Linked DNA regions of Homo sapiens: region 1 is linked to region 2. Evidence: fine-mapped expression QTL. Tissue or cell type: whole blood. Region 2 holds a variant in brackets; the other region holds the start of a gene. All regions are shown on one strand. Distances are from middle to middle.

Evidence for each region. PIP is the estimated chance that this variant, and not a neighbour inherited with it, causes the effect.
Region 1: it holds the start of PLLP, and the variant in region 2 is fine-mapped to the expression of PLLP in whole blood (TOPMed, PIP above 0.99).

Annotation. Positions count from the first base shown.
Region 1 is chr16:57,283,695-57,286,194 of GRCh38, forward strand. PLLP (plasmolipin) reads right to left here and starts at 978. Exons shown (of 4, transcript NM_015993.3): 1 at 712-978. The coding sequence starts at 846. RefSeq lists an enhancer at 56-717 and a silencer at 762-1,171.
Region 2 is chr16:57,148,921-57,151,420 of GRCh38, forward strand. No RefSeq gene overlaps it. Among named protein-coding and RNA genes, the nearest start is that of PSME3IP1, 36 kb to the right of the region's middle. RefSeq lists an enhancer at 1,013-1,802. The variant C/CA (reference allele first, on the strand shown) is at 1,401.

The DNA of each region.
Region 1 (2,500 bases), 130 kb after region 2:
AGGAGTCTTGCCCCTGGCTACCCACAAACCCCTCCCTCCAGCGATATCTCGGTCCCGTGGGGCTGGCTAAACCGGCTGAAACCTGGCGGGTCACCCAGAGAAAGCTAGAAGAGCCCGGCTCCCGCGCGGGCGCCCACAGGGTAGTGCCTGAGTGTGCGTGTTGGGGAGTCGGATGTGCCCTCTAGATTAGATGAGGAATGTTCATGGGTGCGGCCACCCGGAGCCGCTGGGAGCGGGACAGAAGGTGGTCAGAGAGTGGACTTTGCCTCAGACTGGGTTCCCTAGAGGGCTGGGGGCACTGTCCGGGCAGAAAGAGGGGTGAAAAAGAGAGAGGAGGGAAGGGAGGGCTGGGAAGGGTTGGCGGGTTGTGCGCAGTGACTGTGGCTCCGGTGGGGGCTTCTGTGGCCGCTGGTAACCACCTTGGAGGGGGCACGATGGGGCACGGGCAGTGGGCACTCTGTACACGGTGCAGGGTGCTCACGCTCGCAGCGACGGCCACGGGGTAGTGTCGTGGTGAGAGGGATGCAGGGCGATCTTGGGGGCGTCCGTGCGGGAAGCGCCCTAGGGGTACGCGCAGCGCGTCGGTGACAGTGTGAGCCCGGGTGGGGAGCGCAAGGTTCGCGAAAAATGAACGCAGCGCCGGAGTCCCTCACCCATCCTGGCCGGACCGGGAGCCCCCGGCCAACCCCGTGGGCCCGCGCGTGCTCTCACCAGCTGCAGCAGCATGAGCGCCCCGAGGCGGGAGCGCACGAAGCCCAGGTCCGGGCGCAGCGCCGACACCGAGGCTTCGGCGCCCTGCGCAGGACTGCTGGTCCGCGTGCTAACTTTCGACGGGAACTCGGCCATGGCGGCTCCGCTTGCCTCCCGAGGTCGCTACGGCCGCCGTCGCCGCCCCTCCAGCGGTGGGTGCCGGCTCCCGCGCCGCTTTTCCCCCAGGCTCCGGATCCCTGTGTGGCTCCAGGCGCTGCAGGAGGCGTCGGGGCTGGGAGCCTGGGGCGCCAGGTGCGGCCGAGATCCCGGCTCCGCCCCCGCCGCCGGGGCCGCCCCCTTAACCCTTTGCTCGCCGCCGCCGCCCCAGCCGCGACCGGTTCGTGGGCAGCCGCGTCCACTCCCCGGACCAGTAAACAACCCCGGGTCCGTGAATCGGCTCCGCCAGCACCAGCCTAGACCGCTTCGCCGGCCTCCCCCGGGGCAAGCCGCCCGCTGGGAATTTCCCGGCTCTCGCCCAGGCCGTGGTAGCTTCCGCGCCTAGGGATAAACTTGTGGTAGCTCGCGGGGGACACCGCTCTCCCAGGCGCTTTCTACGCGCTGTGCACCCTCGGCCTAGGCCCCGGCGCAGCGACTCTTGAAGAGTCCCGGGAGAAGGCTGGATGCGGTGGCTCCTGCCTCTGATCGCAGCACTTTGGGAGGCTAAGGTGAAAGGATAATTTCAGGCCAAGAGTTCGAGACCAGCCTGGGTAACACAGTGAGACGCCCCCCCTCCCCCCGTCTGTATTTTATAGAAAAGAAAGTAAAGAAGAATCCTGGGAGACCCAGCGCGGGGAAGGGGAGGGTCTGGGTAAGCGGTGGGTAAGCGGTAGAAGGGGGAGGTCCTTTTCTGCCTATTAATGCTGTTTTCACTTCTGAACATATTTTATATAACTTAGATGATCGCGGAGCCTCAGTTTCCTCGTCTGTCATATAGATACGAAGGAAACCTGCCTCACAGAGCGTTGTAGGGAATAAATGAAATATTCCCCAGAAAGCTCCTGACAGCGTGAGGGAGGAGGGGTCACTCAGAAGATGGGAGGTCATATACAGTTTCATTGCCACACATGCACCCTAAAATACTTACACACACACACACACCTCTTGAGCCTAGAGGTTTGCACAGATAGGTCATCATGCATTCATCAACCAATGTTTGCTGAACACCTACTACATGCCAGGCCCTGTGGATACAGCAGGAAACGAAGTAGACAAGGCCTTCTTGGCTCCCACATTTTTTTTTTCCCAAATACCCACTTAAAAAGAGAGCCACTTAAAAAATTGTTTTTAACTGACATGTAATATTAGGTTGGTGCAAAAGTTATACGGTTTTTGCATATAAAAGTATAGCAAAAACCGCAATTACTTTTTCGGCAACCTATAATTGTACCTAAATATGGGGTACCATGTGATGTTTTGGTACCTGTGTACGTTGTGTAAAAAAATCAAATCAAGGTACTTAGCATATCCATCACCTCATACATTTATGGCTTCTTTGGGGTGAGAACATTCAAAATCCCCACTTCTAGCTACCATATTTTGAAATATACAATATTAGGGCCAGGCGCTGTGGCTCACGCCTATAATCCCAGCACTTTGGGAGGCCAAGGCAGGCAGATCACCAGAGGTCATGAGTTTGAGACCAGCCTGGTCAACATGGCAAAACCCTGTCTCTACAAAAATACAAAAAAATTAGCCAGGCATGATGGTGGGTGCCTGTAGTCCCAGCTACACAGGAGGCTGAGACAGGAGA
Region 2 (2,500 bases):
GAACACAGGCATGCACCCCCACGCCCAGCTAATTTTTGTAGACATGGAGTTTCGCCATGTTGCCCAGGCTGCAAGCACTATCTTGGTGAACCCTTCCAATAGCTCCTGACGGTGACCATTTCAGAGATGAGGAGACAAGCAGAGAAGCGAATCAAGTCTACTAGAGGCAGAGCCAGGCCTCATACCCAAGTCTGGCTACCTCATGGCCCACACTTGCTCCACTGCATTGAATGCCTTCCCTTGGCTCTGGATGGGGTTCTTCTGCTCAAGCTGCTAATGAATTTGTCACTCTGTGCCACTGAAATTGGAAAGTCATTTGTCCCCATCTACTCTTCTGGCCAGTAATTCTTACTAGGGCCTGCTAGGATTGGGCACCGCAGCAGGTAGATTCCCACCTCTTAGTGCCTGGTAAGCTCCAGCCAGAGTTTTTCTGGTGGGAGCAAGTAAGGGATACCTTCATCCTAAGCTTCTGGTGCCGCTGCTGATTCTGTGGACACCAAGAGTCAGCTGAAGGATCTGTTAGGGACACTTCTCTCAAGAGGGCCGCAGGACTGCACAGAGCTCTGATTTGCAGACTGTCCTTTGGAAAACTCCAGTGCACTGGCCCCCAGGCCAGCAACATGGGTGGAATCCCACTCCTCCCTTACACCTTCCCGTGGGAGCGGCTTACGAGCTTGGTGAAACTAGGGAGACTGCCGTCCACTGGGCCACGTGAAGGCGAAGCCCTGGCCTTGCAGTGGGGGTCTGTCCCACATGCTCCCACTCTCAGATCACTTCCTCAGGTGTGGTGGCCGTGGTCCCCACATCCAGGCTTCATGTGGGGGCAGATCCAGCCATCTCTGCTGTCTGCCCCTTCTCTGCCTAACGGTGGGTAAGTCAAGCAGGCCCTTTATTCCTAGCTGGCTTCAGTTCACAAACTTGTCTAAACTCTTGTCTAAAGAGTTTGTCTAAACTCTTGACAAGGCCAACCAAATCACTTTTTATTTTCTTATTTTTGAGACAGAGTCTCACTCTGTCACCCAGGCTGGAGTGCAGTGGCACAATCTCAGCTCACTTAGCCTCCGCCTCCTGGGTTCAAGTGATTCTCCTGCCTCAGCCTCCCAAGTAGTTGGAACTACAGGCGCACGCCACCTTGCCTGACTAATTTTTGTATTTTTAGTAGAGATGGAATTTCACCATGTTGGTCAGGCTGTTCTCGAACTCCTGACCTCAAGTGATCCACCTGCCTCGGCCTCCCAAAGTGCTAGGATTACAGACATGAGTCACGGCGCCTGGCTCCAAATCACTTTTGTAAAAATCCAAGCTTTGGTGCTGCTACTTGGTTCCTGCACATGGATAGCAGGCTGAAAAGTGAACTTGGAAATCCAGCCAGAAAGACTCCTTTACCCTTGAATCCCTTC[C/CA]ACGGAGGCCTGGGCACTGGCATTTGTTTAGAAGTTTCACTGAAACCACAGAAAGCCAGACTTAAAGGCTCAAATGAAAATTCTGGTTCAAATGAAAATTCTGGTTCTGTCACTTAGCTATGCAACCTCAGACAAGCCATTGAGCTCCTAGGAATTCTGATTTCCTGTAAAATATAGAGAAGGGCTGCTTCACAGGACTTTTTTCCCCCAGAATGAAAGACACTAGAGTCCACAAAAATAACGCACAAATGCCCCTAACACCCTGGCATATACATAGCAAGCTCTCAGTATACACTGAATGAAAGAAACCAACACAAGCAATGATGTACATGACTATTACTAAAATAGTAATGGAAGACCAGCTTGCAGTATAAAGCACAGGTGAATGGCTGTCCCTCTGTTTTTCTGCCTCTCCCCTCTGCAAAGCTCTGATGCTGGGGCCATGTTCTGCCGTTACCACTGTGAGGCTCCCTCTCTCTCCGAACCGCTGCTCCAGCAGGTAAGGGAGCAAAATGTCAGCCCTTGCCAGTGTCACTAAAGCACAAATGTGTGACTGGTTTCTGTGTTCAACCTGTGACTACAAAAGTGTTGCCAAGATCCTAGCCTCCCACTGAGCAGAACTTGCATTCCATCCTGTGACGCCTAAGTGGGTTGGGCATGCCAGAAAACCAAGAAAATACCCAAGTCCAGATAATCTGCACTGCCATGGAGCTGTTTTTCTGGAGGGGCCTAAGATGACAGCTGAGCCATATACCCACGGCTAGGACAACCGCGCCAAGGAACCGGGTGTGCCTAAGCAATTAACATTTAGCCAAAAGGGAAGCATACAGCAAAAGCTGGTGGTTGGAGCTTTGACGACCAGATCTGACCCTTCACCCATGCCAGTGTTCTAGCTGCAACTGAGGAATGCCAGTGGAATGGATAAACCTGCATAAATCACCAATAATGGAAGCTCTGGCTATGCCACCCAGAAAAAAGGGAGGGCTGATGGTAACAGCACTGAGGGTGGCCACCATTTACTAAACACTGTGTGTCTGATACCGCACACCTAGCACCTAATCTAGGTTATCTCTATCTCCCTAGGAAATTGGTAGTGTTAT